Linked DNA regions of Homo sapiens. The protein of the gene in region 2 purifies or fractionates together with the protein of the main gene of each other region. This does not show direct contact. Each region holds a gene or a part of one and is shown on either strand. Other genes may lie near its edges.

Region 1 (3,500 bases), about 17 Mb from region 2:
ATTTTTTTCTCCATCATATTAGACTCTATAGATGTGTCTTTCTTAGAACAATCCTGCACCCACATAAAAGCTGCATTTCCAATTTGAGATTGTCAAGAAAAGAATCACAAGATCTATAAATTTGGAGAGGAAACTTTATTTCTTAGAAAGGGTTGCAGTCTGCAGGGTGGCCATTCTGACAGGCTGGAAAGTATAGCCTTCAGCAGAGACCAAAAGCAGGCACTCTGAAGGAGGAAAGGATGAGACAGGAATTTATGCTGAATGCGTTGGCCAAGTATACTTATTTAACAGGTTATAGGAGGAGCTCTGAATATAAGAGGGGTCCTAATGCTTGTATACCGAGTAAATGTACAACCCCTGGTCGCTTTGGGGTGGAGACTTAACATTTAAAATACCTGACAATTAGATCCTGTATGTTACAAGATGAAATAGGGACAGGGACATGACAACTGAATGCACTGCCTCTGGAAGCTGGTAGTACCAGTCCATGGTCAGTGATCTCTTATCAGGAGATGTTACTGGGATCAGTCTCTTGTCCAATCAAAGCTGTAGTTACTGTTTGTGGAACAGAGTGTGGGAAGAGGGAAGCTGGGGTCAATCTGTATCTAGCTGTTGGTGAGCTGTAATTGTTTTAATATTGTTTATCACAAGGCCAGTGCTTGTTAAGCTGCTAGAGAAAAAAAAATATCCTGTGGCAATTAGAATGTCATTTACTCTTTAAGTGTAGGGTGTATGACTTAACCCTTGCCCAGGTGGTCTTAGGTCTTGTTTACAATTTGATATCTTATTGCCACAGTCTGTTCTGTCTTGCCTGGGCGCCTAGGGGCTTTATTTTTATTTTATAAGATAAAGGGGTATTTGGCAAAACTGCAGGTGTATTCATATCTGCTGTTATAGCTGCAGTGACAGCTTCATGAATTTCCTTTTCTTTTTTTTACAATGGTCCTATGGTATAGTCATTTATCTTGAAGTGGTGGGCAACTGCAACTGCAGGCCTCAGTCAACAGTACCTATCAAGCAATTCAGCTTTTTTCTTTTTTTTTTTTTTTTTTTTTTTTTGAGATGGAGTCTCCCTCTATCGCCAAGGCTGAAGTGCAGTGGTGCAATCTCGGCTCACTGCAACCTCCACCTCCCGGGTTCAATGGATTCTCCTGCCTCAGCCTCCTGAGTAGCTGCAACTATAGGCATTTGCCACCATGCCCAGCTAATTTTTTTGTATTTTTAGTAGAGATGGGGTTTCACCGTGTTAGGCAGGATGGTCTCAATCTCGTGACCTCGCAGTCCACCCGCCTCGGGCTCCCAAAGTGCTGGGATTACAGGTGTGAGCCACTGCGCCTGGCCAGTTCAGCTTTTTCTTGTACTGTCATGACTTTTCTGTGCTGCTTTGGAGCACTCCCAACATCACTAGTGGCACTTTATGTGGGACCCACGTTGGGTGGGTCCTATGGTCCCAAAGCTTACAATATTGCACTAAGATTAAAAATAGGCAAGAACTGCGAGAAATCACTTTCTACTGTGATAGACAGTTTATTGGAGAGTCAAAACTGCTTATGGGAGATAATCAGCATCACATGTGATCAGCATCACATGGCATTCTAAGTGGATACTTGCAACACCTGAGCTCACCACAAGAGCAATAGGTGGTGGCTGTGAAGTTGTCGTACAGTATGCACTACAGTTAATTTTATGGAGTTATGATTTAATACTGCATCTTTGCATTTGTTTCCATTTCTCTTGACTACAAATGGCATCATATATGGCTTGTGTTTGTGTGCGTAAGTTTTAATTTTAACTTTTTATAATAGATTTGTGTATATTTTACGGTAGTAAATAAGATAGACTAGTACCTACATACAGTTTATGCATTCATGACGTAGCTTTTTCTTAATTTTTTTGACATTTCTACGATACTTAGCTCCTCTCTGGGTTTTTTCACATCTCCAAAATATCTTCCAGTATATGTGTTGAAAAAAATTTGTGTGTAACTGGACCTGTGCAGTTCAAACCTATTATTCAAAAGTCAGCTGTATTACATCTTGTTTATCCAGTCACAGTAGATGGACTTTTGGGTTGTTTTCAGTTTGTGGCTATGAGAATAATGTTGCTACTGAATTACTTATATCTTTTGTGTTTTCTTACAAACTGAATTACAGACTACTTGAAATTAAGAGATGTACTATCTCTTGCTTTTGCTGTAGACAGGCTAGTTGGAAATCCACGTTTAACAGTTTATATTAATTATAATAAAGCTGTTAGATGGGCTGTTGTGTACCTATAAAAGTTATTTTTGATGAGTTGCCAATAACCTGGCAAAATACAGTAAGTATAATGTGAGCCAGATAGAAAACTAAAAACAATTGGTTCCAGGTATGTTTAATACAGCAGATGGGAAATGATGTTGCCTCTGTGTCTTGAAGCCTCCATTCCTTTCCAACTATTGCCCCATTACTTTGGTTCTTTGTGCAGCAAAACTACTCCCATCTGTTCTTGTTGTCTTTATTTCCTCATCTGTCATGCTCTGTTTTAAATAATTTTAATCAAAGTTAAACATACACATAGTTTTAAAAAGCCAAATATTGGCCGGGCGTGATGGCTCACACCTGTAATCCCAGCACTTTGGGAGGCCGAGGCGGGCGGATCACAATGTCAGGAGATCGAGACCATCCTGGCTAACACGGTGAAACCCCGTCTCTACTAAAAATACAAAAAAATTAGTCGGGCGTGGTGGTGGGCACCTGTAGTCCCAGTTACTTGGGAGGCTGAGGCAGGAGAATGGCGAGAATCCGAGAGGCGGAGCTTGCAGTGAGCCGAGATTGCGCCACTGCACTCCAGCCTGGGGGACAGAGCAAGACTCCGTCTCAAAAAAAAAAAAAAAAAAAAAAGCCAAAAATTTCTACTGCCTACCTCCATTTCACCCTTTTCAGGGGAACCAATTTCAACTCTTTTAGCTTATCTTAAAAAATTATTTGTCTCTGTATTTCCAGATATTTTGTTCATATACAGCCTCTTATTTTTCAGATTCACTATTGACTTTCTACCATCAAAGATGAAGATTTAGCTGTCTTTCACCCCCTTACTTCCACTGCACACACTCAGCCTTTCTGTCACTCCGATTTATTCTTCTCTGTCCTCCTGATGGTCCCCTTGTGGTTTTTGTTAGATTCGTGTTCAGTATTACCTGAAAACAGAAATCAGTGCTCAGTGTACTTATAGCTGAGCCAGGTGAAATACTGTGACTGCCTTATCTTTCTTTTGCAGCATTGTTTTCACTTGAGGAAGTAACTCTTATGTGTCTATGTCCTTTCTTCATTTTCGTCGTACTAATTCAGTAAGAAGCTATACGTTGTCTGTATCTCCTCTTGATGTATTCGAATGCATCTAATATTTGAGAAATCTCTCCTGGAGATGTTCTGTTCCAAAAACGCCCCCATGCTTTCTGCGTGCATTCTGGCTGCACAGCCATCATCCTGGGTTCCCTGTCCCCTGCCTCTTGGAGTCTC
Region 2 (5,581 bases):
TAGGAGGTCTCTATCTAACAGCTTTGCTTACTGCTTCTAATAACTTAGCTGTATTTGGGTTTTCAGCATAAACAAGCAGATCACATGTGAATAAAACTATGAAACCCACCTACAGAATTTTAAATTTTAACTTTTTTAAAAATATTTTTTAAAGACAGAGTCTCACTCTGTCGCCTAGGCTGGAGTGCAGTGGCATGATCTCGGCTCACTGCAACCTCCGTCTCCTGAGTTCAAGCCATTCTTCTGCTTCAGCCTCCCAAGTAGCTGAGATTACAGGCGCCCACCACCACGCCCGGCTAATTTTTGTATGTTTAGTAGAGATGGGGTTTCACCAGGTTGGTCAGGGTGGTCTTGAACTCCTGACCTCAGGTGATCCGCCCACCTCAGTCTCCCAAAGTGCTGAGATTACAGGCGTGAGCCACTGCGCCTGGCATATTTTAACTTTTTTTTTTTTAAACAAATACAAATGAGATCTCTCTATGTTGCCTTGGCTGGTCTTGAACTCCTGGCCTCAAGCAGCCCTCTTGTCTTAGCCTCCCAAAGTGTTGGAATTACAGGTGTGAGCTATGGCACCCAGCCCTGTTCAAGCTTCTTTCTTTCCTTTATTATTATTATTATTATTATTATTATTATTATTATTTTTATTTTTTCCAGACAGGGTCTTGTTCTGTTCCCAAGCTGGAGTGCAGTAGTTTGATCATGGTCACTGCAGCTTCGAGCTCCTGGGCTCAAGCATTCCTCCCACCTCAACCTTCCAAGTAGCTAAGGCTACAGGCACAGGCCACAATGCCCAGCTAATTTTTAAATTTTTTTGTAGACAGGATCTCTCTATGTTGCCCAGGCTGGTCTTGAACTCCTGGCCTCAAGCCATCCCCCTGCCTCGCCTTGCCAAAGTGCTTGGGATTATAGGTGTTAGCCACCACACCCAGTTATTTCTTTTAACAGGTCAAGAATTATTTGATGCCCCAATTCTGATATGAACTCATGACTGATTCTGCTGCTCCTGCTAGTTCTTTCTGATGGTGCTTTGTTTTTTTGTGTGTATTTTATGGTTTAAATTATGAACTTATTCTTTGGATGTTTATATATGCCAGATGCTTGGTATCAATTCTAATTTAAGACCACTTAAAATTCTTGACCCAAGGTCTTTGGAACCATTTGATAGAATTTGGGCTATAAACCCATGAGGACTGGTTTGTGGTTATGGCTTTTTGTGTTATTTTGTGCCCCTAGGGCAGGGGGCTTTCACTGGGGTAATTTTTGTAATCCCCTAGGGAGGATTTCTAGCCTACCCATGCATTGAGAGTATATTAGGGTCTTGGTTTTATGAGGAATCTTCTGTTAATTATCCCACCTTCACTAGGCCTTTGTCCAATAATGCTGTGGACCTTAAGCTTAGATTTTTACCTGCTTGGGCAAATACCCTCATGGTGAAAAGCCTTCTTTAGTGCTTCCAGTCACCAGTTCCTCTTCGTCTTGGTTTTTACCTTCTTGCTGGCTTATCAAGGCTTTTTTTTTTTTTTTTTTTTTTTTTTTTGAGACAAAGCCTCACTCTGTTGTGAGGCTGGAGTGCAGTGGCGCGATCTCAGCTCACTGCAACCCTACCTCCTGGGTTTAAGCAATTCTCATGCCTCAGCCTCCCAAGTAGTTGGGATTACAGGTGCCAGCCACCACGCCCAGCTAATTTTTGCATTTTTAGTAGAGACGGGGTTTCAACATGTTGACCAGGCTGGTCTTGGACTACTGACCTCAAGTGATCCACCCGCCTCGACCCCCGCAAAGTGCTCAGATTACAGGCGTGAGCCACTGCACCCAGCCTGTATCAGTCATTTTAAATTATTTTCATGTGGAGTATAAATCAGAGTAATGAATCCAGCACATGGCTAAAACTTCCCGTATCATTTTACTAAGTCATTTCTAGTCATTTTGGAAAGGACATATGAGGTTAAATGAGCACCTGAAACATTCATAAAAATGAAATCAAGAGTGGCCTTTACAACTGGTAACTAAAGATATTTCTTTTTTTTATAGGTGTCAGCTGTGATGCATGTTTAAAAGGAAATTTTCGAGGTCGCAGATATAAGTGTTTAATTTGCTACGATTACGATCTTTGTGCATCTTGTTATGAAAGTGGTGCAACAACAACAAGGCATACAACTGACCACCCAATGCAGTGCATATTAACAAGGGTAGATTTTGGTAAGTAATTAAAAATTTAATGAATTACATCATTTAGAATTTTATGTACGTTGAAGAAGTAAAGGCAAAGTGTTCTAAAACTCCCCAGCAGCATACCATAAGCCCCAAATTCATTAAACATGAAATAAATCTTACTTTTTTTTGAGACGGAGTTTCGCTCTTGTTGCCCAGGCTGGAGTGCAATGGCGCGATCTTGGCTCACTGCAACCTCCACCTCCCTGGTTCAAGCAATTCCCCTGCCTCAGCCACCCGAGTAGCTGGGATTACAGGTGCACACCACCACGCCTGGCTAATTTTTTTGTATTTTTAGTAGAGACAGGGTTTCACCACGTTGGCCAGACTGGTCTCGAACTCCTGACCTCAGTCAATCTGCCCGACTCAGCCGCCCAAAGTGCTGGGATTATAGGCGTGAGCCACTGTGCCTGGCTTTTTTTTTTTTTTTTTTTTTTTTTTTGAGGAGTCTTACCCTGTCGCCTAGGCTGGAGTGCAATGTCGTGATCTCAGCTCGCTGCAACCTCCACCCCCCAGGTTCAAGCGATTCTCCTGCCTCAGCCTCCCAAGGAGCTGGGATTACAGGCGTGCACCACCATGCCCGGCTGATTTTTTGTATCTTTAGTAGAGATAGGGTTTCACCATGTTAACCAGGCTGGTCTTGAACTCCTAACCTAATGATACACCTGCCTCGGCCTCCAAAGTGCTGGGATTACAGGCGTAAGCCACCGCGCCCGGCCTTACTTTTTACGTACTAAGTAATTCTGTCTGTTCATCTTAATCATAGTTTACTTGTTTAAAAAAACCATTCAGAAATATACACAACTGACAAGGAATGAAATAGAAGAGTGCTTCAGTAAAGAAGAAATATGCTCTGTCTTTTGTTCGTGCTATTAACACACAAATAATAGCTTTATTTTATTTTATTTTTTATTTTTTTAAGACAGAGTCTCACTCTGTCGCCCACGCTGGAATGCAGTGGCCGGATTTCGGCTCACTGCAACATCTGCCTCCTGGCTTCAAGCAATTCTCGTGCCTCAGCCTCTTGAGTAGCTGAGACTACAGGTGTGTGCCACCTTGCCCAGCTAATTTTTTTGTATTTTTAGTAGAGATGAAGTTTCACTATGTTGGCCAGGCTGGTCTTGACCTCAAGTTATCCACCTGCCTTCGCCTCCCAAAGTGCTGGGATTACAGACGTGAGCCACCATGCCCAGCAATAATAGCTTTTGTAGTGACCAGAAAACAGATTGTTGGCTGGTTATGGTGGCTAACGCCTGTAATCCCAGCCCTTTGGGAGGCTTAAGATGGTCAGATCACTTGAGCCCAGGAGTTTGAGATGAGCCTGGGCAACATGGCAAAAACCCTGTCTCTGCATCCACCCCCGAAAAATACAATAAATTAGCTGGATGTGGTGGCGCACATGCATCTGTAGCCCTAGCTACTTGGGAGGCTGAGATGGGAGGATCACTTGAGCCCAGGAGGTCAAGTGTGCAGTGAACCCTGATTGTGCCACTACATTCCGGCCTGGCCAACAAAGCAAGACGCTATCTCAAAAAAAAAAAAAGGCAGATTGTTTCTACAGTTGATTAGAAGACATTGTAAGAAAATATATAAATGTTTCATGCTATAATTTTTTTTTTTTTTTTTTTTGAGACAAGAGTTTCACTCTTGTCGCCTAGGCTGGAGTGCAATGGCGCCATCTCAGCTCACTGCAACCTCCACCTCCTGGGTTCAAGCGATTCTCCTGCCTCAGCCTCCTGAATAGCTGGGATTACAGGTGCCCGCCACCATGCCCAGAAAATTTTTTTTGTATTTTTAATAGAGACAGGGTTTCACCATGTTGGCCAGGCTGGTCTTGAACTCCTAATCTTAGGTGATCCACTTGCGGGCCTCCCAGAGTGCTGAGATTACAGACATGAGCCACCACGCCTGGCTTCGTGCTATAATTTCTTACCTAGCCCACACTTTTTGTCCTTTTTATTTCAGCCATCCTAGTAGGTGTAAAGTAGTATCTCAGGTGGTTTTGATTTATATTTCTCTGAAATATAAATTATGTTGAGCATCTTTTCTTGTGCTTATGGGCCATTTGTATATCTACTTTGAAGAAATACCTTGATCCTTTGCCCATTTTTTAATTGGATAATGTGTCTTTGTTATTGAATTGTAATAGTTTTTTATTCCTTATGTAAGTTTTTTTATCTGATAGATGATTTGCAAAAATTTTCTCCCATTCTGTGGGTTGTGTTTTCACTTTCTTGGTGGTGTGCTTTGAAGCACAAAACTTCTAATTCTGATAATGTCCCGTTTATGTATTTTTTCATTTGTTGTGCATTTGATGCTGTATCTAGAAAATCACTGCCTAATTCAAAGTCACGAAGATTTAAACTTGTGTGTTCTTCTAAGAGTTTTATAGTTTTAGCTCTTACATTTAGATATTTGACCCATTTAGAATTAATTTTTATATGTGGAATGAGGTAAAGGGCCAACTTTATTCTTTTGCATGTGAGTATTCAGTTGTCCCAGTATCTTTTGTTGGAAAGACTATTCTTTACCCAATGCATTGTCTTGGCACTCTTGTTAAAAATAGGTTGACTATAAATGAGGGTTTATTTCTAGACTCTCAGTCTATTCACATTGATCTATATGCCTGGTGTTTTTGTTTGTTTTTTGACACAGAGTCTCACTTTCACCCAGGCTGGAGTGCAGTGGTGCGATCTTGGCTCACTGCAGCCTCCGCTTCCCAGGCTCAAGCAATCCTCCACCCTCAGCCTTCCAAGTAATTGGGATCACAGGTGGAAGCCACCACGCCTAGCTGATTTTTAAATTTTTTGTGGAGATGGGGTTTTTCCACATTGCCCAAACTGGTATCAAACTCCTGAGCTCAAAGTGATCTGCCTGCCTCAGCCTCCCAAAGTGCTGAGATTGCAGGCGTGAGCCACCATGCCAAGCCTACATGTCTGTCTTTATGCCAGTACTACACTGTCTTGATTTCTGTAGCTTCATAGTAAGCTTTGAAATCAAGAAGAGTGAGTCTTCCAACTTTGTTCTTTTTCAATATTATTTTGGGTATTCTGTGTCCGTTTCATTTCTGTATTTTAGATTCAGCTTGTCAGTTTCTGCAAAGAAGCCAACTAGGATTTTGAATGGAATTATGTCGAATCGGTAGATTAGTTTGGAGAGTATTGCCATCTTAATAATATTAAATCTGCTGATACATGAACATGGGATATGCTTCCATTTTTGTAGGTTTTTAATTTCTTTTGACAAACTTTTGTAGTTATCACAGTATGAGTTTTGCACTTCCATTGAATTTATTCCTAAGAATAGATGGTCCCCAGTTTATGATGGTTCAGCTTATGCTTTTTTTATCTTATAGTGGTACAAAAGCAAT
Region 3 (3,500 bases), on a different chromosome or scaffold from region 2:
CTAACCAGAGTGGGAGGAGGAGAGAGGGTAGAGAGGACATGAGGTGCATTGGGTTGGGTGAACCTGGCACACTTTTCTTTTGTCTGCCTTGCTCTGAAAGAATAGATGGCTACACTTCCTGCTTGGGGTAATTAATGAGCACCAGCTAGCACCAGCCAGTGAGATGATAAGTAGTGGGAGCCCAGTTACCAAGCAGGGGGAAAGCAGAAGAGAGAAAGAAGATGTAAACAGTGGTAAGTCATGGGCTCCACAGGCTGGGTAAGCTCTCAGGAGCTCATGCTGTTAGGAGAAAGACAGGGATCTTAAAGGGAGCAGGAGGGGAAGGAGAGAGGCTAGGCTGGCATGGGTCTCCGGCCTAGAGATTGGCTGTGGGGAGAATAGAGAGGGAGTTCAGGATGTCTGCTGGGATACACATTCTTCTTCCTTTAAATGGGGTCCCAGGAAGATTTCCTTACGAAACAACACTACATAGAAGCAAGACCAGCCACCTCTCAAAAGGGATAAGTTTTCGAACAAGGGAAAGCTCCCCAAACCCACCTAAGGGACCAAGACATACCATGAGTAGATATGCCTCACAAATACCCTATCTGTGACCCTCAGCAGCCTCCCCAACCACTACAAAAGTCCACACCTTGCTGAGCAGAGGGTTTGATATCTCTTAGATTAAAAGATGTGGTCTGCCTATTTGGCTGTCCAGTCTTCCCTCCCACCCAAGGACTTCTTAACCCGGAAGCAGTTCCTCTGGAGACGAAATAAACAACATGTCTGCAGAGGCACTGTGACTCTGGACTTGTTTCCAAATAAAAAAATCTGTTTCACAGTAATTGTGCTTCTGAGATAAAGACTATATGCTGTAATTTACGTCATCAGTTTTACCGCTTGATTTAGTTAGTATATGCTATTTGCCAACTGGCATGGAAGTGTTTCAGTATTTTAACAACTATATAGCAGGATTAGTGCATACCTGCCGAATATCAAATATCAAACCATACTTGTGTTAACCTAAATAGTCTATTTTTGACTTTACTCTGATATGTTTATGTTTTAAAGCTCAAGTTTTTATTTTCAAAGAGCTTTGTAGGAATTTTGAACCATATTCTGTTTACAGAGAACACAGGTATTACTGAAAGCTTGTGTTTTAATAATAGCAGATTTTATTTTACTTGATCCCTCATTACTTCATAATGAATGTCTATAGGAGAAAGACTTTTTTTTTTAAATTTTTTTAGTATTTATTGATCATTCTTGGGTGTTTCTCGGAGAGGGGGATTTGGCAGGGTCATAGGACAATAGTGGAGGGAAGGTCAGCAGATAAACATGTGAACAAGGGTCTCTGGTTTTCCTAGGAAGAGGACCCTGCCGCCTTCCGCAGTGTTTGTGTCCCTGGGTACTTGAGATTAGGGAGTGGTGATGACTCTTAACGAGCATGCTGCCTTCAAGCATCTGTTTAACAAAGCACATCTTGCACCGCCCTTAATCCATTTAACCCTGAGTGGACACAGCACATGTTTCAGAGAGCACAGGGTTGGGGGTAAGGTTATAGATTAACAGCATCCCAAGGCAGAAGAATTTTTCTTAGTACAGAACAAAATGGAGTCTCCTATGTCTACTTCTTTCTACACAGACACAGTAACAATCTGATCTCTCTTTCTTTTCTCCACATTTCCCCCTTTTCTATTCGACAAAACCGCCATCATCATCGTGGCCCGTTCTCAATGAGCTGTTGGGTACACCTCCCAGACGGGGTGGCGGCTGGGCAGAGGGGCTCATCACTTCCCAGACGGGGCGGCCGGGCAGAGGTGCCCCTCACCTCCCGGACGGGGCGGCTGGCCGGGCGGGAGGAGAAAGACTCTTACGAGAGTTAGCTCCTTGTCAACCAAATCTGTGCCTAAAGATAACATCATACATAGTTCTTTGAACCCAGAGGATCTAGTTTTTGAATCATCTGGAATAGGCATTCTAGAATTATCTATGTTCTGAAATGTTACCAGCATTTCAAGCTACTACAGATTTCTGTATTTAATCAGAGGATTCACTGATCCTGAATATTCTAAAAAGATTGTTTTAATTCTTATGAAAGGTCATGTTGTTATCTAGATCAACACCCTTCAGGGGAAACTTAGCATTTTGCAGCCACTGATCCTTGAGACCTTGGATGCTTTGGTGGACCCCAAACATTCTTCTGTAGACAGAAGCAAACTGCACATTTTACTACAGAATGGCAAAAGGTAAATATGGATGATGTATCACATTGGGAGTTGGAGACAAATATCTTAAAATCAATTATTAACATTTTGTTTCATAACTTTTTTTAAAGTATGAAAGTAGCCTAGGTGGGAAGTTGAGCTAAAAGGGGCACACAATCTACTGTTTGTTGAAAAGATACTTTGCATGAAATGTCATGTAAGGCTCTTTTCCGTATGTGATCTCATCTCATCACCCATTCAATAGTTGATATTGTCTTCATTTTGAAGATGAGAAAATTGAGGTTTGAGTAACTTGCCTAAATTTATATGGCTAGTAAATGGCAGATCTAAATCCAAATTCAAAGTCCATGTTGTTCTTTTTCTTTAAAATCATAATGCATTCCAGAATTTAATAACAATATTATATATGTATCATAAATAGAATAAACATGCTCTCAGGAGTTATACTCCCGAAATCCCTTCAAGAATTAACATTTAAAATTCCTGAATCAGTAGTTTCTTATCCAAAAATGTTGGAGTGTTTTTATCAGTTAAGAGTAACTAGTCTGTTCTATATTATCACTGCCATGTTGATTAATAAAATTCCCAAACCAAAAATCTTAAATTCACAAGCGATTTATGTTTCTGAGATAAGTAATGTATGATGAAATTTATATCACTGATAATTTTACCAATTAATTTAGATCTGGTTTGGGTTTTTTGTGGGTGTTTTTGAGACAGGGTTTCACTCCGTTGCCCAGGCTGGAGTGCAGTGGTGCAGTCTCAGCTCACTGCAGCCTTGGTTTGGGTTTTTTGTGGGTGTTTTTGAGACGGGGTTTCACTCCGTTGCCCAGGCTGGAGTGCAGTGGTGCAGTCTCAGCTCACTGCAGCCTTAACCTTCAGCAATCCTCCCACCTCCACCACCCAAGTAGCTGGGACTGCAGGCACATGCCACCATGCCCAGCTAATTTTCTAAATTTTTTTGTAGAGACAAGATCTCACTGTTGTCCAGGAGGGTCTCAAACTCCTGAGCTCAAGCAATCCTCCTGCCTTGGCCTCCTAAAGTGCTAGGATTACAGGCGTGACACCATGCCTGGCCAAATTGATTCTTAATTTGCCTGGTAAATACTCAACTTTTTTTTTTTTTTTAAATAAGTCATTGTTTAGCATGAATGTATAAGATAATATATTTGATAAGATACTCTAAAAACACTATTATGAAATGTTCTTATAAGTTTATTCTATTGATCATTTTTGTGTATCTATTTCTTATAGTCTATCAGAGTTAGAAACAGATATTAAAATTTTCAAAGA
Region 4 (3,268 bases), on a different chromosome or scaffold from region 2:
CAAAGAAGCCTTTGATGGGGGGCTGCAGGCCCAAGAAGACGACGCCCAGAAAGGAGACAGTGAAGGGCGCCTCACACCCTCCAGACTCCAGGGAGCATCCCCACACCAGAGCCTCAGGGTCTTGGGAAAGCAGCCCCCTACACAGGGCAGGCGCCCTTACGAGGAGAGGGATGGCCAGGCAGGTAGATCTGTAGAAGCAGCCACGGCAGCAGCTGCCTGGGATGGATCCTGCCAGACTCCAGACTCACGGGGGCCCCACCACTGCCCTCTCTCTACTCCTCCCTCAGCCACTGCAGGCTGTGGTCAGCTGTGGTCACCAGTTCGACACCCCAAACCCCTCCCAGTGGTGGTGTATACTTAAGCAAGCTCCTCAAAAGCACCCGCAATCTCCCACCAGAGGACTGCCTGGGACCCCAGAACACCAGCTCAGAGGTGTCCATGTGGCAGTGGGAGGTGCCCTCATACCTGTTCTCACTCTCTGCTGTCTGGAACTGGCTGTACAGGGTGCTGGTGCTGCGGCGGGCAGCCTGACGGGAGCCGGATGTGGTTGAGCCACTACTCTGGTCGCTGTCCAGGCTGAGGCTCAGGGTGGAGCCCACGGGCCCCTCCTGCAGGTACACACCCAGCGAGCGACGGTGGTGGGGTGCGGTGGACACAAGGAGGGAGCTAGGGGTGCCCTGGGAACAGGAGGTTGGGACTTGGGTCAGGGCTGGACAGACTCCACTTTCTCCCAGCAACACGCCCACCGTGGACGCTCACACTGGCCCTCACTCACACGGCCGTCTGGCCGGCCCTCGAGGCGCTGTGCAGCCTTCACCCGGTCCCAGGTGTCCTTCCAGCGCTCAGCGGGTTGGCCCAACTCTGTCTCCAGCCTCTGCAGCTCCTGGGGGAAGAATTAATGGCAAGTTTATTCAAAAGGAAATATCCAGACTAGAGCACGAAAAGACAAAAGGAAAACACAGGAAAGAGACACAACGGAAAGGCCTAACGCGTGTGTGACTGGCCACAGGGGGAGGTGGCAAGAGGGAGGGAAGGAATATGCAAAATGAATATTCGGAGACAACAGTTGAAAAATTTCCCAAACTAACCAGAGGCATCAAACAACATAATCAAGAAGCACTACAGACCCCAACAGGGTAAGTTAAAAACACACACCCCGGCCAGGCGTGGTGGCTCACGCCTGTAATCCCAGCACTTTGGGAGGCCGATCACCTGAGGTCAGGAGTTTGAGACCAGCCTGACAAACATGGAGAAACCGCATCTCTACTAAAAATACAAAAAGTTAGCCCAGCATGGTGGCGCACGCCTGTAGGAGAATCGCTTGAACCTGGGAGGCGGAGGTTGCGGTGAGCCGAGAACGCGCCACTGCACACCAGCATGGGCAACAAGAGCAAAACTGCTTCTCAAAAAAAAAAAAGACCACACAATACTGATCTTCAACACTGCAGGGTCCACAATGTCCAGCTTACAATAAAAGAACAGCAGAAAAATGGAGAAAAACATTAAAATAGACCCTGAAATGAAACAGGAGTTAGAACATACAGTAAATTCAAGAGAGTGATTTTAGGGCCAGGCGCGGTGGCTCACGCCTGTAATCCCAGCACTTTGGGTGGCCGAGGCGGGTGGATCACGAGGTCAGGAGTTCAAGACCAGCCTGGCCAAGATGGTGAAACCCCAACTCTACTAAAAATACAAAAATTAGCCGGACGCAGTGGCAGGCACCAGTAATCCCAACTACTCAGGAAGCTGAGGCAGGAGAATCACTTAAACTCAGGGGGCGGAAGTTGCAGTGAGCCGAGATCACACCACTGCCCTCCAGCCTGGGCGGCAAAGTGAGATTCTGTCTCAAAACACACAAACACACACACACACACACACACACACACACACCCCAAAATGGGACAGAAAAACTGCTGAAAAACAAAGAGAAAAGTCCCAAAACCTGCCAGAAGAAAAAAAGACATGCTCTCTTTGAAAGAGCAACAATAAAACTGACGGCTGACTTCAAAAGAGAAACACGAGGCCAACTGTCAACTTCCAGCCATGACAGATAATTAGTCTGAACAGCCCTCCCTCCATATGCAAATGATGAAACTGGACAAGAAGGGGAAGCCGTTGTTTCCAGATGTCAGACAAGCAGTGCAGCTTGAGAGACAGGAGCCTAAGACATGGGACCACATAAGATGGGCCCCACAGTCACCTGTTTTCTGCCCAGCCACAGTGCAGGGAGGCAGGGCCAGAGCAACACACGGGAGCTTGCTGAGCCGAGGAGGCAGAGACGGGACGTCCAGGGGCGCTAGTGCAGCTGGGTCTGCAGGGCAGCCCACAGAGGGGAGGGAGCACCACAGCAAAGGGGCTCTAGAAATCTAGACAGAGCCCTCCTTGAGTCGTTGGCCAAATTAGGCTGCCATGTGCAAAGCAAGATGTCACAAGGCCTGGCAGAGAACAGCTACTAAGAAGCTATGACCTGACGCCGGCAGCAGTGGCTCACACCTGTAATCCCAGCACTTTGGGAGGCCAATGCGGGTGGATAACCTGAGGTCAGGAGTTCAAGACCAGCCTGGTAAACATGGCAAAACCCTGTCTCTACTAAAAATACAAAAATTAGCTGGGCATGGTGGCGGGCACCTGTAATCCCAGCTACTCGGGAGGCTGAGGCAGGAGAATTGCTTGAACATGGGAAGTGGAGGCTGCAGTGAGCCGAGAGTGCGCCACTGCACTCCAGCCTGGGAGACAAAGTGAGACTCTGCCTCAAAAAAAAAAAAACAAAACTATGAGCTGAACCCAAATTCTAGAGGAATGCTAAAAGATACTGGACTTCCAAAAAGCCAGTGTGGCAAGACCTTACCGAAGACACAAAGACACAAAACTCCAACTGAAGCCCTGGAGAGGCCACACGCCTTGGGCTGCTCTATCCCTGGAGCTTCTCTAGAGGTGCTGGAGAGCTGCCCAAACAAAGCTTAGAAACAAGCTTCAAACAGACCAAGCTGACGCACAAGCTCATTACCTACCTGCGAGAATAAAACCCAAGACTCTAAGCTTAAAGAAAGACAACACAGGCAGGGCACAGTGGCTCCCGCCTGTAAGCCCAGCACTTCGGGAGGCCGAGGAGGGAGAATCGCTTGACCCAAGGAGTGTGAGAACAGCTTGGGCAACATGGCAAGACCCCATCTTTATATATATTTTTAAGTTATGTTTCAAGATTTAAAAGAAAAGATGGACATAATGGTTTATCAGATGGGGAATCTCTACAATAAAAAGCGTTAAA

The links. The genes of interacting proteins can lie anywhere in the genome.
Region 1: the proteins of KCMF1 (region 2) and PNO1 fractionate together in Homo sapiens (co-fractionation; one large-scale study listed by BioGRID). This does not show direct contact.
Region 3: the proteins of KCMF1 (region 2) and MRS2 purify together in Homo sapiens (affinity purification with mass spectrometry; 3 studies listed by BioGRID and IntAct, with this or other methods). This does not show direct contact.
Region 4: the proteins of KCMF1 (region 2) and SBF1 purify together in Homo sapiens (co-immunoprecipitation; one large-scale study listed by IntAct). This does not show direct contact.

Annotation. Positions count from the first base shown.
Region 1 is NC_000002.12:68,167,888-68,171,387, forward strand, and holds part of PNO1 (RNA-binding protein PNO1), read left to right. Parts: intron 1-3,500. UniProt on the Homo sapiens protein: Part of the small subunit (SSU) processome, first precursor of the small eukaryotic ribosomal subunit.
Region 2 is NC_000002.12:85,025,858-85,031,438, forward strand, and holds part of KCMF1 (E3 ubiquitin-protein ligase KCMF1), read left to right. Parts: intron 1-2,031; coding exon 2,032-2,199; intron 2,200-5,581. UniProt on the Homo sapiens protein: E3 ubiquitin-protein ligase which accepts ubiquitin from an E2 ubiquitin-conjugating enzyme and then transfers it to targeted substrates, promoting their degradation by the proteasome.
Region 3 is NC_000006.12:24,412,936-24,416,435, forward strand, and holds part of MRS2 (magnesium transporter MRS2 homolog, mitochondrial isoform b precursor), read left to right. Parts: intron 1-2,080; exon of another isoform or gene 2,081-2,097; coding exon 2,098-2,228; intron 2,229-3,461; coding exon 3,462-3,500. UniProt on the Homo sapiens protein: Magnesium transporter that mediates the influx of magnesium into the mitochondrial matrix and regulates magnesium metabolism. Also permeable to calcium, sodium and potassium ions.
Region 4 is NC_000022.11:50,447,768-50,451,035, forward strand, and holds part of SBF1 (myotubularin-related protein 5), read right to left. Parts: intron 884-3,268; coding exon 776-883; intron 678-775; coding exon 466-677; intron 1-465. UniProt on the Homo sapiens protein: Acts as an adapter for the phosphatase MTMR2 to regulate MTMR2 catalytic activity and subcellular location. Promotes the exchange of GDP to GTP, converting inactive GDP-bound Rab proteins into their active GTP-bound form.